Regions from separate parts of the Homo sapiens genome. Here regions 2 and 3 are each reported to be linked to region 1. The links are microRNA targets in miRTarBase. Many come from high-throughput screens and were not tested one by one. Region 1 holds a microRNA gene; each other region holds the end of a gene's coding sequence.
What was found. Region 1 holds the annotated microRNA hsa-miR-1321 (CAGGGAGGUGAAUGUGAU, at 3,093-3,110, opposite strand). A microRNA usually pairs through its seed, bases 2 to 8, with sites in the 3' UTR of a target mRNA and lowers its output. Matches are read on the target gene's strand: a 7mer-m8 pairs with bases 2 to 8, a 7mer-A1 pairs with bases 2 to 7 and ends in A, and an 8mer does both.

Region 2: the mRNA of ST7L is a reported target of hsa-miR-1321. Seed matches in the 3' UTR shown: 7mer-m8 at 4,331-4,337.
Region 3: miRTarBase lists DCAF11 as a target of hsa-miR-1321. Seed matches in the 3' UTR shown: 7mer-m8 at 465-471.

The regions. Positions count from the first base shown.
Region 1 is chrX:85,830,661-85,838,941 of GRCh38, reverse strand. It overlaps MIR1321 (microRNA 1321), which reads right to left and starts at 3,162; the gene lies at 3,084-3,162.
Region 2 is chr1:112,520,006-112,527,005 of GRCh38, forward strand. It overlaps ST7L (suppression of tumorigenicity 7 like), which reads right to left. Exons shown (of 15, transcript NM_017744.5): 15 at 3,509-6,106. The coding sequence ends at 6,008. WNT2B (Wnt family member 2B) reads left to right here. Exons shown (of 5, transcript NM_024494.3): 5 at 275-7,000. The coding sequence ends at 504. Among named protein-coding and RNA genes, the nearest start is that of WNT2B, 15 kb to the left of the region's middle.
Region 3 is chr14:24,122,900-24,129,899 of GRCh38, forward strand. It overlaps DCAF11 (DDB1 and CUL4 associated factor 11), which reads left to right. Exons shown (of 15, transcript NM_025230.5): 14 at 72-178; 15 at 276-2,343. The coding sequence ends at 410. Among named protein-coding and RNA genes, the nearest start is that of FITM1, 4.3 kb to the right of the region's middle.

The DNA of each region.
Region 1 (8,281 bases):
TAATGATTCAACAAACATCTCATACTTATATCTCTGTTCACATGCATATCTCTGGTAGATAGAGTCTTAGTGGTTGAATTACTGGTTTAAAGGGTATGTACACTTTACATTTTGATAGACTGCCAAATGGTACTTTAAAAAAGCTGATTTCCACTCACTGATACTAGATATTATTACTTTTTAAATGTCTGCCAATCTAATGAGCTAAAAAATATGGTATCATATTGTTATACTATGCATTTCCCTCCTTATACATCGAAACATATGTTCAATGCCAATTTTCAGTTACCTCTTCTATGATTTCTCAGTTTATGCCCTTGCCACTATTATAACTTGCAAAAATTCTTTTTATATTTTCATATTAATACTTCATTACACATATTGCAAATCTTTTTTTCATTCTAGATTTTAACTTTTATGGTGTGATTCATTACCTAGAAATTTTAAATTTTGATATAGACAATTCACTTAATATTTTCTTTTATGGCTCTGGACTTTGCATCTTGTTTAGAAGAGTCTTTCTCAATTCATTAGTAGGAAAATATGTCCCACATGTTGCTAAAACACCTGTGATGGTTAATATTGAGTGTCAACTTGATTAGATTGAAGGATGCAGAGTATTATTTCTGGGTTTGTCTGTGAGAGTGTTGCCAAAGGAGAATAACATTTGAGTCAGTGGACTGGGAGAGGCAGACCCACCCTCAATCTGGGTGGGCACCATCTAATCAGCTGCCAGCATGGCTAGAATAAAGCAGGCAGAAGAAAGTGGAATGAGGAGACTTGCTGAGTCTTCTGGCCTTCATCTTTCTCCTGTGCTGGATGCTTCCTGCCCTCGAACATCAGACTCCAAGTTCTTCAGCTTTTGGGCTCTTGGACTTACACCAGTGATTTGTGGCTCTCAGGCCTTTGGCCACAGACCAAAGGCTGCACTATCGGCTTCCCTACTTTTGAGGTTTTGGGACTCCGACTGACTTCCTTGCTCCTCAACTTGCAGATGGCCTATTGTGGAACTGCACCTTGTGATCGTGTGAATCAATTTTCCTAATAAACTCCCCTTCATATACATATGCATATATGCTAATAGTTCTGTTGCTTTATAGAACCCTAATACAATACCTTTAAAAAAAAAAAAAAGAAAACTTTTAGCTCTTTAACTGACCTGAAATTTATTTGGGGGATTTATGTGAGATAGAAATCTAACATAAAATTTCATATATGAATATCCAATTTTCCTCATGCCATTTTTTGAGATCATCTTTTTCACACTAATCTGAAATATTACCATTATCAATTATTAAATTCTTATACATGAAATCTGTTTCTGGACTATATTCAATGTTATTGCTATTTTGTCAATTCCTATACTAAGATGATGTTATTTTAATTACTGTAACTTTCGAACACGTATTGATACCTGGTAGAGTCAGCCTTTCTGCCTCATTTTTTTTTTTGTCTTAGTTATGCTTGGCCCTTTGCTCTTTCATATACATTTCGGAATCATTTTGTCAAGTTCCACACACATACACACGCAAATCCTTGTTGCAAGTTTGATTGGAATTGCATTCAATATTACTTCACTTTCCCATCCATGAATGGGAGGGTATATCACTCATTTTATTTAATTTTTTACTATGTTTTCTAAATAATATTATACCTTTTGGCAGACACTGATAGTGTCCACCAAATATCCATGTTCAGATCCGCATTTCCCACTCTACTTTGAAGATAAGTTCAGGTAGCTGGGCAGTTAAGAGCCAGTTTGCCTCTTGCATTCCTTTTTCTCCTTTCTATAACTAACTAGTAGTCCAGATGGCATTGCCACAGTTTGGAAGCTTCCAGGAATCTTGAGTCAGCTCTTAAAGGGAAGCTGTGCCAGAGAGCCACCTGACTCACATTAACTGTAACTGGAGCAAGAAATAAATTGGTGTTGTGTTACAACATGGCTATTTCAGGGATTATGTGTTACCACAGCATAGCGAACATTACCTGACTAATTAAAAAGTCTTGACCATCTTTTATGTATTCCAAGGCATCATATACTGTTTCTTAAACTTTTCTTTTATAATAATTTGCTGTTGATGTATAGGAAAAAAATTAACGTTATATGTTGATCTTGTAGCTAATAACCTTGCTAAACTCTCTTACTAATAATATATCTATAATTCTTTTTAGTTTTCTATGTTGATAATTATATAATCTGTGATCAATGACAGTTTTATTTTTCCTTTTCAATCCTATACATTTTAACTCTTTATCTTGTCTTACTGAACTGCCAAGGACCTCCAATACAATGCTAAACAGAAGTGGTGATACTAGACATACTTCTAATTTTCCTGGCTGTGAAAAAGGTAAGGTTAAAACAGTTCACCGTTAGTGTATGTTTATTGTAGGTTTTATTAAGTTAAGGGAGCTGACTTCTATTTCTAGTTTGCTAAGGAGCTTTTATCATGAATGGGTCTAGAATTTTGACCAAAGCCTTTTCCGCATCTATTTATTGACTGCCTACTATGGGCTAAGCACTGATCATGTTTTTCACTCCTTTCATCTATTAATGTAATAAACCATATTAATAGTTTTTAAATGTTAAATCATCCTTAAATTTCTCCTGGTGACATAGATGCTCCCACCTCTGGGTTCATTGTAAGCCTGTGTGTGTTGCCAGTGCATAGCATAGCTGCTGGCATAATATAGGCAAAATGTTTTACTCATGTTCCTTATTATTTTACTTAATAAATGATATATTTTATTACTGTATTTGTAATATTTCCAGTAGCAGAATACTATAAAACACATATCTTAAATAAATTTGAGTTAGAATAAGGCAGACATGCTCAACCAATCCCAAGAATCATATTGTATATTGTTCCACAAGAAGAGCTAAGAAAAAAATATTTAGTGATTAGAAAAATTATATCACTATCTCAGGTGGTTTTCTTAATTTCTTCATTATACGGTTTTAAGTGGGATTTTAGATTTCATTAATATAAACTCATAGGGAGCAATAAATAGTGGGAAGAAGAGAGATTTGAAGTCAGACAGACTTAGGCTTGAATCCTGTCTCTTTAACTTTCTTAACTATATATCTATCTTTGATCACATTCACCTCCCTGAGTTTATTTCCTTATTTGTAAAACAGGGATAATAATACTTGCTTCATAATGTTGCTATATTTGCATTAAGTAATCAAAAAATAATATAAAATATCTAGCATATTGTGGACCTTAAATAAATGTTAGTTCAAAAATGAGTATGAATAAATGAATATACATTTTTTCCTCAGAAAAATTTAATATGTCGAGAATTCTAAAAATAAAAAATCTATGAATGAGGTGTGCCCAGCTTTACACATCTCTGAATAAATTGGGGTTCTTTGTTTTGACTGTTTATCGGTGGTTGATAATTGTTCCCATTTAGAAATATATTATTAATGTCACAATGCAACAATTTGTGAAATTTATGTTATTAGTCTATATATTCTTACCTTTGGAACTACTGTTAATCCCAAATAGGTATCACGGCTCTATTTTTAAACATTTATATAACAAAACTATCAGTAAATATTATTCAGGGTTTAATTACGTTACTCTACTTTTTTCCTCCAAATAAATAGTTATTCTAATCCACTATATGTTCAGACATTCTCTCTCTCTCTCTCTCTCTCTCTCTTCCCTCCCCCTCTTCTTCTCTCTTGTTCATTTTTGAAGTAATAGAATTATCATTTTGGGGGAGAAACTTGATGTTCTCAAATGTGTTTGGAATAATAATGTTCTAATAAATAAATTTGAGTTTCCCAAACTTTTACATGAGAGTAAAGCACTAGAACCAAGGTCTCTATAGAGAAGAAGAAGCAAAAAGGGGAGAGTGTAGAGAAAGGATGAAAAAAGAAAAGGAGGAGAAGAGGGAGGAGGAGGAGCAAGGTTTCAATTAAGTAACTCAAGTGTAATGTGTGCCCCTCTCAGTTTCCTGTCTGCTGCCAAATCTAGGGAGTTGCTAAACTTCAGTGGTCTACCCCTGAAAATTTTTATTATTAGAGCCATCATTTTCAGTGAGTGGAATGAGGTTAGAAGCTATGTGGTCTCTATATTACTTGGAAAATATATCATTTGGCACTCCTCAATGACATTAGACTGTACATTTCTAGATTGATCTGCACAGTTCTTGTCAATTGGTAGGGATTCAATCTATGTTGAGTTAAACCAACTGAGATAAACTGCATTAAACCCTTTAATTTTACATAACACACCCACCACAGAAAAAATTTAATGGTAGTCCTTATCCCCAAATAATTTTCAAAACAAAGCAATAACAAAAACAGTCACTGAAGGGTAACTTATTGAAGGTATGAGAAGTTTTCATTGAAAATGCTCCCAAGTGACAGGCTTACAGTTCATAAATAAAGATGACAATGCAATGGCCCAGTATTTTAAAATCTTAAACACTTTTTTAGTGAAGGCCTGTGAGGTCATGTGAGCTAATATGACAGACACTGAATATTTACTACTCAAAAGCCATTCAGAATCCACTTCTCCCTTGCCTTCATCTACTATGGACGCTGTCTCACATGCAGATAAGAGTGATTATGTGACATGAAAGTAGCCAATACTGAGTATTCTTTGCCCCCAGTTGCAATTTCCTTTGGTGATATGAAAAATGTTTCTAGGTTCATTGTAATATATTAGCACAAAGTTCTTGTCTTGTTTGTTCCTGGAAAAAGTCTTTACAGTCCGTAAGTGCTGTTTTCCAAATTGTTCCCTGTAAGCAAATCAAAGAAAGCCAATCAAAATGACAATGTACATACTTTAATGTTAAATACAAAAAATCAGAATAAAAAATTATTAGTATATATCTCCTGATTTTGTTCACATACACATGAGCAAAGAAAAAATACTTGATGGAAATGAGGCTTATAGGAAACATATTAAAGTAGTAAACTCAAGGTAGGATTTGAAGTGATTTTTATTTTGTTAATTAGAAAATTTTTAATTGAAAAATAATTATATATATTTACGGAGTACAATGTGATGTTTTGATATATGCACACATTATGCAATGTTGAAATCAAGCTGATTCCTATATTTGTCACCTCATCTTAACTTTTTTTTTTGTGGTGTGTATTAGTCCATTCTCATGTTGCTGCAAAGATACTATGCAAGACCGGGTAATTATAAAGGAAAGAGGTTTAATTGACTCACAGTTTAGCATGGCTGGGGAGGCCTCAGGAAACTCACAGTTGTGGTGAAAGGGGAAGCAAACACGTCCTTCTTCACAGGGCTGCAGGAAGGAGAATGAAATGAGTGCCCAGTGAACAGGGAATCCCCTTATAAAACCATCGGATCTCGTGAGAACTAAGTCATTATCAGGAGAACAGGATGAGGGAAACCGCCCCCATGATTCAATTATCTCTGTGGGGACACAGTCAAACCATATCATGGTGCCAGCATTTAAAATCTATTCTCTTAGCAATTTTGAAATATTCATTATGTTATTAATAACGGTTGTCGCCATTCTGTGCATTAGATCTCAAGAACTTAGTCCTCCTATCTAACTGAAACTTTGTACCCTCTCACCAACATGTCTCCATTCCCCTCTCACCCACCTCCTGAGGCCCTGGCAACCACCATTCTACTCTTTTACTTCTATGAGTTTGACTTCTTTAGATTCCACATATAAGTGGAATCATGCAATATATGTCTTTCTGTGCCTGGCTCATTTCACTTAGCATAATGTCCTCCAGGTTCATACATGTTGTTGAAAATGACAAAATTTCCTCTGTTTTAAGGCCAAATAGTATTCCATTGTACATATATACCACATTATCTTTATCCACTCATCCATTGACAGATACATTTTGCTAATACTTTTTACATTTAACATATATCAAAAATAAGTCTTATTAATTTTATCATTGTAAAAACATACATTTTAATCTTTCCTATAATGAGTTAATGCTTTTAATTTAGATTTTATGTGTATTTTAATGTGAAGGGTTATGTGTTTAAGTCTCTTGGAACTATTGTGTATTAATATACAATAGGACACCATGTGTGAAAGTTTTTTGAAATCCCTATATGATTATTCATTGGGTAAGTAACAGGCCTACACCAGAACCAGTGTTTCAAAAGTCATATTTTCCCAAGATAATTTTAAGTGCCATGGCTAACCTACAAATCCAGAAATCAGCCCACTCTACAAACAAGGAATTAGAAGGGTGACAATTATACATAATGTTAGATCTCTTCATCTCTGTTCTTCTTCCCTATGCCCTCTTCTCAATCTACACACTCTCCCGGGGTAATTGCATCTTCTCCCATGGCTTCAGGTATCCTCTCTTTGCTCAGGACTCATATTTTACTGTCTATGGAACATCTCCACTTAAATGTCCCTGGGGAACACTCACACTTAACTCATCCAAAATAGAAAGCAACATCTCACAGCTTCCTACTCTCAGATTTTCTCTTCCTTCAGTTACTCCTTATTTTTTAATAAATGACACCCACCTGAAGCCAACCTATTGACCAGAACCAGAATCCTAGGAATCATCCTGTCATTCTTTGTATCTTTCCCTACCCTGTATCAATTTTTGGTAACAAATCCTTGTGATTTCTACTTCTGAAATTTTTCTTGAATATGTCTCCCTATTTCCATCCCAACTCTCTGGTCCAAGACATTATCATCACTCAGCTTGACCCCTAGAATAGCTTGCTAACTGGTCTGCTTTGCTTGCCTCCACTTTTGGTTCCCTATAATCCTTTTAACACAGTACAATCAGAACAATCTTTCTTAAAAAGATATGTAAATATAATCACATCATTTCTCTACTAAAAATATTTTAATGTCTTTTCAATCACTACTCCACCTAGGGTACCCCACTACCGTACCCTAGGTACCCTACCCCACTGCAGCCTATGCTCCAGTTATTTAGAATTATTTGCAGTTCATTGAAGATGCCATGCTCTGTCTTGCCTCTGTGTGTTTGCACATGCTATTCTTACTTTCTTGAATGCCCTTCTCTGCCTGGATATCTCTTACATAGACACTCACAAGTTAGCCAGGCACGGTGACTCATGCCTGTAATCCTAATGCTTTGAGAGGCTAAGGCAGGAGGATTGTGTGAGGCCAGTAGTTTGAGTTCAGCCTGAGCAACACAGTGAGGCCCTATCTCTACAAAAAATTAAAATTAAAAAATTAGCTGAGCATGATGGAATGTGCCTGTAGTCCTAGCTACTCAGGAGGCTGAGGTGGGGAGATTGCTATAGCCCAGGAGTTTGAGGTTATAGTGAGCTATGATTGCACCACTGCACTCCAGCCTGGGCAACAGAGTAAACCTTGTCTCAAAAATGAACAAGCAAACAAACAAAACCAAAACAACAACAACAACAACAACAAAAACAAAACCTCTCAACCATCACCTCTCCCAAAAGCCTTCCTTGTTACCCCCAGTCCAGGTTAAGTGCCAAATTAGGGTACATTCTCCATACCTTCATTACATTGCTTAACATTGGCACTGACTAGTTTTACAGGTTACTCTAATAGACTGGTGAGCTATTTGAGAGCAGAAACTGTGTCTCGGTCATCTCAGAGTTTCAGAGTTTTGTTCTTTTGAGTCTTTGGTTATGCATGTTTTACAATAATATATCTGCTCTTCTCAGCAAAGCTTCAGTTTCAGGTTTTTTCAATATCTTGCATTCTACAATTTTCCTTCCATGGCAACACAAAATCAGCTAAAAACTACCATTCTCTGAAAAATGTTGCTCAGAACTCAGAATACAGAAGTTTGTCTCCTTTCTTGGAATGAGAAAGAGAAAATGTCTACAAGCTATGAGAACAAACCCAAATTCATATGTCAATAAATGACTTTGTGATAGAATAGAGATGCCACTTAAGGAAAATAAACTGCTACTATGAGAAAAGCCTTGAGAGGTTCTCAGTTTTGACTTCTTTATTATCCTAAAGCAGGTCAAAATTCTCTATTATTTTCTCTAAAGCACAAAACACATTTGGTAGTAATTAAATTGTGCATTCAGAATTCAGTTCAAAATTAAGTAATTATAATAAAATAAAAATTATTTTGTTAAATTAAAATGGTTTGAATAGAAATGAAGTTTATTTATGCTATACGGGGCCTGGATTTGAAACATCTAGCATAACGGTTTTTGATTAAGAAATCTTAGAATTATAGGACTAATAAAAATATTCTTTTTTCAGATAAGGAATCGTTTCAGGATTGGTGTGGTGGCAAAAAAAATATTACATGCATTTACAATTTGGAAAATTACACGAT
Region 2 (7,000 bases), not on the chromosome of region 1:
GGACTACAGGCTCATGCCCATGGCACCTGGCTAATTTTTTAAGTTTTTGTAGAGACAGGGCTTGCTATGTTTCCCAGGCTGGTCTTGAATTCCTGGACTCAAGGATTCCTTCTGCCTTGGCCTTCCAAAATGCTGGGATGATAGGCATGAGTGAGCCACTGTGCCCAGCCCAAAAAAGCGATTCTTTTTATCTTCCTTCTGAGAATGTGGTTAAGGGTATCCAGGGCAGCTGAAGAGATAACTTTGTTCTCACTCCCTCTCTTCCCCAACCCAGGTTCCCTAGGCACTGCAGGCCGTGTCTGCAGCAAGACATCAAAAGGAACAGACGGTTGTGAAATCATGTGCTGTGGCCGAGGGTACGACACAACTCGAGTCACCCGTGTTACCCAGTGTGAGTGCAAATTCCACTGGTGCTGTGCTGTACGGTGCAAGGAATGCAGAAATACTGTGGACGTCCATACTTGCAAAGCCCCCAAGAAGGCAGAGTGGCTGGACCAAACCTGAACACACAGATACCTCACTCATCCCTCCAATTCAAGCCTCTCAACTCAAAAGCACAAGATCCTTGCATGCACACCTTCCTCCACCCTCCACCCTGGGCTGCTACCGCTTCTATTTAAGGATGTAGAGAGTAATCCATAGGGACCATGGTGTCCTGGCTGGTTCCTTAGCCCTGGGAAGGAGTTGTCAGGGGATATAAGAAACTGAGCAAGCTCCCTGATTTCCCGCTCTGGAGATTTGAAGGGAGAGTAGAAGAGATAGGGGGTCTTTAGAGTGAAATGAGTTGCACTAAAGTACGTAGTTGAGGCTCCTTTTTTCTTTCCTTTGCACCAGCTTCCCGATACTTCTTGGTGTGCAAGAGGAAGGGTACCTGTAGAGAGCTTCTTTTTGTTTCTACCTGGCCAAAGTTAGATGGGACAAAGATGAATGGCATGTCCCTTCTCTGAAGTCCGTTTGAGCAGAACTACCTGGTACCCCGAAAGAAAATCTTAGGCTACCACATTCTATTATTGAGAGCCTGAGATGTTAGCCATAGTGGACAAGGTTCCATTCACATGCTCATATGTTTATAAACTGTGTTTTGTAGAAGAAAAAGAATCATAACAATACAAACACACATTCATTCTCTCTTTTTCTCTCTACCATTCTCAACCTGTATTGGACAGCACTGCCTCTTTTGCTTACTTGCTGCCTGTTCAAACTGAGGTGGAATGCAGTGGTTCCCATGCTTAACAAATCATTAAAACACCCTAGAACACTCCTAGGATAGATTAATGTAGTAAGTCTGGCTAGGCCTTGTGTTGCCTTTTTTTTTTTTTTTTTTTTCTTTTCTTTTCTTCTCTTCCCATGCACTATTCTGGAGGTTTGCCAGGTTTGGGGAGACATGGAGTAAAAGAAAGATAGGCAACTCATGGATGGTGGGAGAGCAGGTAAGCAGGTCTGATCTCAAGGGCCCACATGAGGCATCAGTATATATTAGGCAGGTAGGGATCTCTGGCTTTGGTAATTCTTTATGAGAGGATCCTAGCCTTTGAAGCTGGGAGCAGGAGTCAGTGGCTACAGTGGGAAGGAGTACTGCAGGTTGGGGCCAAAGTGATACACAGCTTAGAAGGCAGCCTTCCTCCACTTACTCAACAAATCTTTATTTAGTGACTCTCCAAGTCCTAGTGATTATTATTATTGTTCACTCCACATTTGGCTTAATGGGTAATGCTATTACCCATTGCCTAACTAGGTTTGCAGTAGTGGAATCTCCAGAGATAGCAGGCTTAGTAAGCTGGAGGTAGGACATGAAGTCCCCCAAAACTTGATGTCCTATTTTTATGTGAGTTGGACAGTGGTTATCTTTTGCCTGTTGATATCTTAAAGCAGCAGAGTGGTATAGAAATTTGCGGTTATGACAGACCCGGGTTAAAAATCACAGCTGTGCCATTTGCTTTGATATTTTGAGCAAGGTAGCTAAATTTTCTGAGCTTCTATTTTCTCATCTGTAAAATGAGGATACGTACCTGTTCTTTTTTTTCTTTCTTTTTATTTCTTTTAGAGATAGGGTCTCGCTTTGTTGCCCAGGCTGGAGTGCACTGGCATGATCATGGCTCACTGCAGCCTCAAATTCCCAGGCTCAAGCAATCCTCCCACCTCAGCCTCCCCATTAGCTGGGACTACAGGGCCATGCCATCATGCCCAGCTAATTTAAACATAGTTTTCAGAGATGGAGCTCACTATGTTGCCCAGGCTGGTCTTGAATTCTTGGTCTCAAGCAATCCTCCCACTGCAGCCTTCCAAAGTGCTGGGCGTACAAGCGCAAGCCACTGTGCCCAGCTGTCAGACGCTGAGTTTTAATTATGCACCAAACTCCAGCCCGCAGATCCTCTTCACCAAAGCCCCTGGCTGGTCTAGCCCATCATGACTTCTCTAGGAACAGTCCTTCTTTAGGACTATAAAGTATTAACAAAAGTCTGTAGATTAAGGAGCCTGCATAAAGAATTCTGGATACAGGCCCCTGTCTTTCCAAAGTTCCTCTCCAATATCCCTTGGGGTCCTCATGTTTTTGAAGCAGCTTCACTCTGCACAGGCAGCAGGAGGTTGGGGGAGCCATAGCTCTGGGCCACGGGGGCAGATTTATTTGGATGATAGGACTAATATTTGTGTAACCTGCTGAGACCTGTGTGGGAGAGTTTAGGGTGGTTTTTCTTTTGGTGAGGGGATTTGCTCTGGTTTCACATCCATTAACACAAAACATGAGCTAGTCAGGGCCCTTGTGGTCTGCGGTAAGGGGATGCCTGTGGAGAAATGGGCCTGAGTGAGTCAGGCCAAGAGAATGTCTTCCTTCAGAATGGAGTCAACTGGATAACTGATGAGCCAATGGTGGGATTAAGGAGGGGGAAATGGGAGGGGAAGAGAACAGCTGACATCTTGAGGAAAGCTTTGGGGTAGTGGAGAGGTAAGGGGGTCATGGTCAGTCTGAACTCAACAATAGGGCTGAATGAATTTACCAAAGGAAGCTGCCTTATATTATATGCCAGGCTGCTGGGGAAAGCCTCAGGTCCTGGCCAGCCCCTGTTCTCACAAGAACATGCAGGTTACCACATAAATAATGGCATATGCCTTCCATAGGACGTCAACCTGACTTAAATCTACCTATACCCTACTCTCTATTCTTTGGTTTTTGGTTCTCATCCCTGTGGAAGGAAATGGGCCTCTTCTGGCATCTCATGCTACTCTGTGCTTTTCCTTGGGCTCCAAATTCTAGCTCATAAAGATGCAAGTTTTGCAATTTCCTATAAATGGTTAAGAAAAGAGCAAGCTGTCCAGAGAGTGAGAAGTTTGAAAAGAGAGGTGCATAAGAGAGAAATGATGTCCATTTGAGCCCCACCACGGAGGTTATGTGGTCCCAAAAGGAATGATGGCCAAGCAATTAATTTTTCCTCCTAGTTCTTAGCTTGCTTCTGCATTGATTGGCTTTACACAACTGGCATTTAGTCTGCATTACACAAATAGACACTAATTTATTTGGAACAAGCAGCAAAATGAGAACTTTATTTGGTGCAGTCAGGGCTCCATTTAGTTCCCTCACTCTGCTTCTAATCACCCCTTCTCCCAGCCCTCTTCTATTTGATAGAGGTCTGTCCCTCAGATCAGCAATGTCTTAGCCCCTCTCCTCTCTTCCATTCCTTCCTGTTGGTACTCATTTCTTCTAACTTTTAATAAACATTTAGGTATAATACATTACAGTAAGTGCTATTTAGATACAAACTTAAAACATACTATATATTTTAAGGATCTAAGAATCCTTTAGAGAAGGCACATGACTGAAGTACCTCAGCTGCGCAGCCTGTAGCCAGTTTTTTTAATGTAAAAGTAAGAATGCCAGCCTTAACCTAGCCCTGCAGATAAAAGCTAACTTTTATTAATACCAGCCCTGAATAATGGCACTAATCCACACTCTTCCTTAGAGTGATGCTGGAAAAATAAAATCAGGGGCTTCAGATTAAAAAAAAAAACAAAAAACAAAAAACAAAAACAAACATTGCCTGGCCCTGAGGGTCTGTTTGCAAAACTTCTTGTAGATCTAATTTCTGAACACTCACTGCTTCATTTCTATTCCTCCTGTTGCAGGGAGTAATTTCTTCTCCTTTGTCTCACTTCCCTTATCAAGAACACCAACCAGTAAGTCTTTGCCAAATTCTCAGACCCACTCAGGACACGAGTCTCTACATGGCTTAACAGAAGAGAGATAATTAGGATTTTTTTTTCCTCAGTCTTTCTGAGGTTTTTATTTAAATGCACTCAGTGGTCATAGGGCAGAAGCTCAAGCTAGCTGGGGCGAAGGGAGGACGCCAGGGAGAGTATGTTTCTCATCCCTGGGAGGCATTCAGCCTAGCTCCTGCAGCCAAATTACAGCACCAGAGAACAATGTGATGCATTCCTGGGCAGGTCGGTGGGACCCTGGGCGCCTGGGCCTTGTGGAGAGAGGTGCCAGACACAGAGTTCTCCGTAAGCAATCCTGCAGAGCCGCCCCCTGGGTGCAGAAATGAAATACGGGAGAGCTTCACATTACACAGAGACCTGTAGCTCACACCTGGTTATTGATGGCCTTGGTGGAGGCCTCTGCCCCGACCCTCCACTTGGGAACTGCCTGCTACTACGGGGGTTGGGCATCTTTGAAGCAATGTTGGATAACAAGAAAGAGATGCTTCCTTTTCACTCTTTGCCCTCCCTGTCAGCCTGAGCACAACCATGAGGTTACACACACACACACAGAGGTGTACATATACAGACACATAGAGAACTTCTCTCAGGCTGCATAGGAGTTCTGCTCATCCTCCTCTCCCCAACAATTAAAAAAAAAAGCAATTAGATTTCGATCCAGTACTTCAAAAAGGATACCAATAGGGTCTGGCTTTAATCAAGGAATATCTACAAAGTCACATTACCAACCTGCAGGCAACTCTTTGGTTTGGGGACCAGAACTCCTCTGGTGGGTGGTTGGGGGAAGGATGCAGGAAGGGCATGGTGAGGAGAGATCAGTGGTGAAGAATTACCATCAAAGCAGAGTGGCTGAGACTGTATAAGTTCGCAAGGCTGGTTCATGCCAGAGATAGTGAGATGTGCACCCTATGTGCTGAGAATGATGGAGCAGTCTCCTATGACTGCATGGGGTATAACTGCCAAGCCTACTGCTCATGACCTGTGGTTGTTTTTAACTCTTAACTGGGTTAGAAAACTGGAGAGCTTTGGATTCCAGGGATGATCTCCATAAGAGAGAAGCACTGGAAAAGACCAAGTGGTGGCTTTATTAGGGTAAATATATCACAGTTGCTACAGTGAATTGAGCTTTCTCAGAAGCTATTATTTTCTTTGGGTGATTGGCAGGTATAGGGCAATAGCCAGTGGGGTGTCAGTAATATGCCCTGTCCCTGACCTCAAAGGTAAAGGGATAGAAAAGAGAGGGCGTTGACAAACTCATTTTCCCACTTCCCACTCATGGCTTATATTATCTCTGAGCATCTCGGTGGCTATTCCTCATTTACTTAAGATGTTTTAGTCATTCTGGATGTGCAAATGCAAGGCAAGCATTCTCCCACTGGCCCCCTAACGGTTAACTATCCTGGCTTAAAATTTTCCTTTGCTCACTTCCATTCTATGAGTATATCGATGGAGCAGCTGGACATTAGAGTTCTTTCTCTTTGACCAAAGGAGCCAAAATGCGGTGACTTGACTTCAACCCCAACAGCCCCTGTAAGTAGCCCTGGCCAAACAGAAAGGCTAAGCTGAATGAAGAAAAAAGGAAGACAATTTCATCTACAGTTGTCCTTTTTGACAGCTTCCAAGGGGGGTTTGCCTAGGAATAACAATATTCATAAGAAGCTTTTTCATATGCAAAATGCTTTAGCATATATGTAATCCTCACAACAACCCTGTGAGGTAGGGGTTACTGTCACTTTACAGATGCTGTTCAGAAAAATTTGGTGATTTGTCCAAGGTCACATGAACAGTGCGTGGCTCAGCCAGAACTCAAACCTAGGTCTTCTGACTTCAAATCCTGTGTATTCTCCTCAAAGCCTGAGGATGCCCAGGGTTGGGGGCACCAGAGTCCCAGCACCTTCAAAACAGAAATTGATACAAAATGTTCAAGCCCTGTAGGAGTCCCAGGACAGCCAAGAGAGTATATCTGAGCACAGTTTACAAAGGAACAGCCTAGGCCCTCCTGAACCTTATCAACCAATGGCTCTTTTGCCATTTCTGCCACTATTACCACCAGTACCATGTGACCACTATACAACATATTCCACATTTAAACAACTCTGGCTCCTAATTCTACTCCTTTTTTCCCCTTCAGATTAACATTAAAAATTTTATCTAGTCCTTTTGAAATTATGCTAAATGTATAGACACAGTAGAAGTAGTCATGACAGAAAATTATTAAGGCTTTGAAAATATGTATCAGAGGCCGGGTGCAGTGGCTCATGCCTGTAATCCCAGCACTTTGGGAGGCCGAGGTGGGGCAGATCACGAGGTCAGGAGATTGAGACCATCCTGGCTAACACGGTGAAACCCTGTCTCTACTAAAAATACAAAAAAATTAGCCGGGCCTGGTGGCGGGCGCCTGTAGTCCCAGCTACTGGGGAGGCTGAGGCAGGAGAATGGCGTGAACCCAGGAGGCAGAGCTTGCAGTGAGCCAAGATGCACCACTGCACTCCAGCCTGGGAGACAGAGCGAGACTCCGTCACAAAAAAAAAAAAAAAGAAGGTATGTATTAGAATTTTCTTTGAGATTTCACTCCTTTTAAAAATGACGTCAACTCCTGGGTTAGGAAAGCAAGATGAGGGAATAAGTGTCCTAAGAAACTCCCATCCCAAGCCAGACAGATGCCTACCCGTGGCCTGGCAAAGGTCCTGGGATCTCAAGCTGATGCAAGCAATTTGTGTACACCAAGGCAAGGGGTCTCAATCCTGCAGAGAAACCCATGAGATGAGGCAGACAGCAGATTTTCACT
Region 3 (7,000 bases), not on the chromosome of region 1:
CTCATGGGGAGGTGAGGGATAGTTTAGATGTCTTGTGGTGGTCCCTCTCCACTCTTGCCTGTCCTGGACAGTGTACGACCTTCTAAGTGGCCACATTGTGAAGAAGCTGACCAACCACAAGGCCTGTGTGCGTGACGTCAGTTGGCACCCCTTTGAAGAGAAGATTGTCAGCAGTTCGGTGAGGTTGCAAGGGTTGAGGGTGCTGGCACATGTCTGGGGCTTGGACTTGGGTGGGGGCAGCACATCCTGACTGCTTGCCACCCTCTGCCCTGCAGTGGGACGGGAACCTGCGTCTGTGGCAGTACCGCCAGGCTGAGTACTTCCAGGATGACATGCCAGAATCTGAGGAATGTGCCAGCGCCCCTGCCCCAGTGCCCCAATCCTCTACACCCTTTTCCTCACCCCAGTAGATCCAACCTCCAGCCCCATATAGGGTGAACCTCTTGATAAGCTCTCTGCCTCCTCCTCCCTTTCTCCCTTGTGGGGAATGTTTGGAGGAATCACTGGCATTTGATGGGGAATAACATAAGCCTGGGCTCTGAGCCTCAGCTGAGCCCTGGAAGATTCTCCCCATGGGGCAGAGTGGTCTCCTTACGTGCTCACACCCAGTCAGCTTGGGTCCCTATCTCTGGCCAGAGTTTGGCAGGACTGCCATTATCTGGGGTGTGGCCTCTGCCAGCAAGAGAAGTGTCCTGGGTGTTTTTAATCATGTTTGAATGTTAGGGGTTGGATCCTAGAGTAGATGCCTGAGGCCACATCTGAACAGACCTGTCAGCCAGGCCTGCCAGGTCTTCACGTTGAGGATTCAACTGGCCAATCACAGGACAGGTGTCCTGGCCTTTCTTCCTGAGGTCTCTAGGGGAGGGGCATGGGTAAGGGTGTTTCCTCAGCACCCTCCTGGGGTGGGGATTATGTCTGCTGTCATGTCTGGGTCTTTAGGGTAGGACAGGCTGTGGTATGAGAGGCAGGAGTCTCCACAAGGCTTCATGTGGCCCCTTATAGGGCAGGCCCTGCCCTCTGGGAAGGTCCCTTCATGCTGGAGGCACACAGCTTTAAGGAAGTAGGTTGAAGTAGGACTCCTTCGTCCTCTCACTGGCTTTGGCTCCCTCAATAAACTGTGTGGGAACCTGGCTCAGTGTCTGTCTCTCTCTCTCACTCTCTGTTTTTCCTATCTGAGGTCTTTCATCTCCTCACTTCAGGAAAACACAGTTCAGCAAAGTCTTCAGATGCGATCCTGTGTAGGAGAAAATACCCTTCTGGTGCCCCATGAAAAAGGGAAATACCAAAACCATTTGTTCACTGAGCCTTGCAATAGGTGCTCCCTTACCAATTTCAGAAGCTTCCCTGCAAGTAGATATCGAGAGAGCACACTTTCCATTAGAGCCTGGTAATACCCATATCACCTCTGCTCTGAGGCTGGGCCTGCAGCTGTGTAGTCTTTGGAAGAGGTAGCCCCTGAACGCAGAGCCTAAGAGAAGCAAGTCGGCCCTGACGCCAGGCCCCAGTGGGCGCCTCACACTCAGAACCTCATACCCCAGAGCAAACCGATGGTCAGGGAGAGGGCTAGAGCTCACACCCAGCTCGGAATAGATCTTCCCTGATGACATTTCATGCCCTCTAAGGCAGTTTTTAAATGAAGGTACACACATCCAGGGGTGTTCACAGGCTTTCACAGCAAGGGTACCTATTTCATGGCAAAATAGGCAGTTTTAAAAGAATAAACAAGCTAGGTGTGGTGGCTCATGCCTGTAATCCTAGCACTTTGGGAAGCCAAAGCTGATGGATCGCTTGAGCCCAGGAGTTTGAGACCAGCCTGGGCAACATGGCAAAACCCCATCTCTACAAAAAATACAAAAAGTAGGCCGGGCACGGTGGTTCACACCTGTAATCCCGGCATTTTGGGAGGCCGAGATAGGTGGATCACCTGAAGTCAGGTGTTTGAGACCAGCCTGGCCAACATGGTGGAACCCAATCTCTACTAAAAATACAAAAAAACTAGCCGGATATGGTGGCGGGTGCCTGTAATCTCAGCTACTTGAGAGGCTGAGGCAGGAGAATCGCTTGAACTTGGGAGCAGAGGTGAGCTGAGTGCAGTGAGCCAAGACCATGCCATTACACTCAAGCTTGGGCAACGAGAGCAAAACTCTGTCTCAAAAAAAAAATTAGCCAGATGTGGTGACGCATGCCTGTAGTCCTAGCTACTCAGGAGGCTGAGGTGGGAGGATCACCTAAGGCCAGGAGGTCAAGGCTGCGGTGAGCCGTGATTGTGCCAATGTACTCCAGCCTAGGTGACAGAGTGAGACCCTGTCTCAAAAATAAATAATAAATAAATAAATGTTCAGATCCTTGGCTTCTGTGTTCTCATTCCTCAAATTGATCTACCTAGTGTGAAACTCCCGTGCCAGATCTCCTTTCCCATCCACGCTTTTCATTCCCCGTCTGCCAAGTGATAAAGTTACCTAAGGTGCTACCCATCTCACCCAGAACCTGTGTTACTTCCAGGGCACCAAATTAAGAGAGAAATTCAAATTGTTAGTATCCTTATAGCTTCATTAGATCAAAGCCCCACAGACCGACCATTCTCAGTAAGAGATGCATTTACAATATAATTTTATGTTATCGAAGTAATGTAAAATGTTTGTTGTACAGGCATACCTAGGAGATATTGTGAGTTCATTTCCAGACCACTGTAATAAAGTGAATATTGCATAAGGCGAGTCAATTTTGTTGGTTTCCCAGTGCATATAAAAGTTATGTTGTTTTTAGGCTGGGCACAGTGGCTCATGCCCGTAATCTCAGCACTTTGGGAGGCCGAGGCAGTGGATCACCTGAGGTCAGGAGTTCAAGACCAGCCTAGCCAACATGGTGAAACCTCGTCTCTACTAAAAATACAAAAATTAGCCAGGTGTGGTGGCAGGCGCCTGTAGTCCCAGCTACTCAGGAGGCTGAGGCAGGAGTATCGCTTGAACCTGGGAGGCGGAGGTTGCAGTGAGCTGAGATCGCACCACTGCACTCCAGCCTGAGCCACAGGGTGAGACTCTGGGGAAAAAAAAAATTTTGTTTTGTTTTGTTTTTTTTTTTTTGAGACGGGGTCTCACTCTGTCACCCAAGCTGGAGTGCAGTGGCATGATCTCAGCTCACTGCAGCCTGGACCTCTCCTGGCTCAAGCAGTCCTCCACCTCAGCCACCTGAGTAGCTGAGACTACAGATGCCCACCACTACACCTGGCTAATTTTTGTGTTTTCTGTAGAGATGGGGTTTCGTCCTGTTGCACAAGCTGTTCTCAAACTCCTGGGCTCAAGCGATCCTCCCACTTCAGCCCCCCAAAATGCTGGGATTATAGGCATAAGCCACTGTGCCTAGCCATGAATGTTCTTAATGGCATCTGGAATGGTGAATCCTTTCCAGAAGGTTTTCAGTTGACTTTGTCGACAGCTATCAGAGGAATCACTATGGCAGCTGCAGTCTTACGAAATGTTTTTTTTTTTCTTTTTTTTTTTTTTGCTTGATATAGGGTCTTGCTCTGTCGCTCAGGCGCAGTGGTGCACTCAGCTCACTGAAACCTCTGCCTCCCCCTGGACTCAAGCGATCCTCCCACTTCAGCCTCCCAAGTAGCTGGGACTACCAGCACACACCACCCACATCCAGCTCGTTTTTGTTATTTTTTGTAGAGACGGGGTTCGAAATGTATTTCTTAAAGAGTAAGACTTGGCCGGGTGCAGTGGCTGACACCTGTAATCCCAGCACTTTGGGAGGCCGAGGCGGGTGGATCACGAGGTCAGGAGATCGAGACCATCCTGGCTAACACAATGAAACCCCGTCTCCACTAAAAATACAAAAAAATAGCTGGGCGTGGTGGTGGGCACCTGTAGTCCCAGCTGCTCAGGAGGCTGAGGCAGGAGAATGGCATGAACCTGGGAGGCGGAGGTTGCAGTGAGCCGAGATCGCGCCACCGCACTGCAGCCTGGGCGACAGAGCAAGACTCAGTCTCAAAAAAAAAAAAAAAAAAAAAAGTAAGACTTGCAAGTCAAAATTACTCCTTGATCCATGGGCTACAGAATGGATGTTGTGTTAGCAGGCATGAAAACATTAATCTCCCTGTACATCTCCAGAGTTTGTAGGTGACCAGGTGCATTGTCAATGAGCAGTAATATTTTGAAAGGAATCTTTATTTCTGAGGAGTAGATCTTAACAGTGAGCTTAAAATATTCTGTAACCCATGCTGCAAACATATGTGCTGTCATGCAGGTTTTGTTGTTTTATTTATAGAGCACAGCAGAATACATTTAGCATAATTCCTAAGGCCCTAGGATTTTCAGAATGGTAAATGAGGATTGGTTTCAACTTAAAGTTACCAGGTGCATTATCTCCTAATAAAAAGAGTTAGTCTGTCCTTTGAAGCTCTGTAGCCAGGCCTTGACTTCTCTCTAGCTGTGAAACTTCTATGTGGCATCTTCTTCCAATAGAAGGCTGTTTTGTTTGCTTTGAAAATCTGTAATTTAGTGTAGCCACCTTCATCAATGATCTTAGCTAGATCTTCTGGATAACTTTCTGCAGATTCTATATCAGCACTTGCTGCTTCACCTTGCATTTTTATGTTATGGAGGTGGCTTCTTTCCTTGAGCATTATGAACCAACCTCTCCTAGCCTCCTCACCACTCTCAGTCTTTATAGTATTGAAGAGAATAGGCTGGGCTCAGTAGCTCACACCTATAATCCCAGCACTTTGGGAGGCCAAGATGGAAGGATCACTTGAGGCCAAGGGTTGGAGACCAGTGTGGGCAACATAGTGAGTGTTGGCATGCACATGTAGTCCCAGCTACTTAGGAGGCAGAGCAGGAGGATTGCTTGAGCTCAGGAGTTTGAGACTGCAGTAAGACATGATCATGCCACTGCACTCCAGGCTGGGCAACAACGCAAGACACTGTCTCTTAAAAAAAAAAAAAAAAAGAGTTGGGGCCTTGCTCCAGATTAGGCTTTGGTTTAAGGGAATGTTGTGGCTGCTTTGATCTTCTATCCAGACCACTAACACTTTCTTGATATCAGCAATAAGGCTATTTCACTTTTGTATCATTCATGTGTTCACTGAAGTGTAGTACCTTTTAATTTCCTTTAAGAACTTTTCCTGGACAGGTGCAGCGGTTCACTTCTGTAATCCCAGCACTTTAGGCAAAGACAGAAGGATCACTTGAGCCCAGGAGTTTAAGACCAGCCTGGGCAACATAGTGAGACCCCTGTCTCTACAAAAAATTTAAAAATTAGCCAAACTTCGTGGCCTGCACCTGTAGTCCCAGCTCAGCGAGAGGAGGATCACTTGAACCAGGGAGGTCAAGGCTGCAGTGAGCTGCAATCATGCCACCGGATTAGGCTTTGATTTAAGAGAATGTTGTGGCTGCTTTAATCTTCTACCCAGACCACTAAAACTTTCTCCATGTCAGTAATAAGACTGTTTCACTTTCCTGACAGAAAGTGACCCTGTCTCAAAAACCCCAAAAACTAAGGTATTCATGTACTAATAATATATTTTAGACTACTAACAGTTACAATGAAAATAGAATCCATAGGAAAAAAATTAACTCTTAGGGCTTTATGGTCACAGGACATTTCTATTTTATTTATTTTATTTATTTTTATTTTTTGAGACAGTCTTGCTCTGTTGCCCAGGCTGGAGTGCAGTGGTGTGGAATGCAGTGGTGTGATCACTGCTCACTGCAACCTCAAATTCCTGGGCTCAAGTGATCTTCCCATCTCAGCCTCCTGAGTAGCTGGGTGGGTGCCACCATCTTTGGCTAATTTGTGTATATTTTGTATAGATAAGGTTTCACCATGTTACTCAGGCTGGTCTAGAACTCCTGGGCTCAAGTGATCCTCCTGCCATGGTCTCCCAAAGGACTGGAATTGCAGGTGTGAGCCACCACACTGGGCCCAGAAACTATAAAAAATTAAATTTTTTGGCTGGGCACGGTGGCTCACGCCTGTAATCCCAGCACTTTGGGAGGCCGAGGCAGGCGAATCACTAGGTCAGGAGTTCGAGACCAGCCTGGCCAACATGGTGAAACCCCATGTCTACTAAAAAAAAAAAAAAAAAAAAGTAGCTGGGTGGTGGCGGGCGCCTGTAATCCCAGCTACTTGGAAGGCTGAGGCAGGAGAATCGCTTGAACCCAGGAAGCAGAGGTTGCAGTGAGCCAAGATCGTGCCACTGCACTTCAGCCGGGGCGACAGAGTGAGACTCCATCTCAAACAAACAAAAAATTAAATTTTTTGAGTTACTTTTCTTGCAGAGAAATGTGATAAATGGTCAATAAAAGACTTTCAGGCATAAAAACATATTAGGATAAATTCTGTGAGGGAGTAGAATGGAAATATAATTTCTGATGTAAAATCTTGTCATGTTTTAATGGATAAAGGTGAAGTATCTAATCACTGTAGTATTTACATTTCATTGGATACATTTGAAACAGTGATATAATGGATTTATTTTGAAATGTCAGTATATGATACACTAGAAATTATGTCCTTTGCAACTATTTAAAACCACAATGAGACCAGGCATGGTAGCTCATGCCTGTAATCCCACCACTCTGGGAGGCCAAGGCAGGAAGATCACCTGAGGCCAGGAGTTCAAGACCAGCCTGGTCAACTTAGTGAGACTTTGTCTCTACAAAATAAATATTGAAACAAGGTCTCACTCTGTTGCTTAGGCTTGGAGTGCAATAGTGCCATCACGGCTCACTGCAATGTCAACCTCCTGGGCCCAAGTGATCCTCCCATTTCGGCCTCCCAAGTAGCTGGAATTACAGGCACGTGCCACTATGCCCAGCTAATTTTTTTAATTTTTGTAGGGACGGCGTCTCACTGTGTGAGACCAGCTCAAGGTGGTCCCGAACTCCTGTGGCTCCTCAGGCTGGTCCCAAAGTGCTGGGATTACAGGCATGAGCTACCACACCTGGCCAAAAAATAAAAAATAACCAACCATGGTGATGCATTCCTGTAGTTCTAG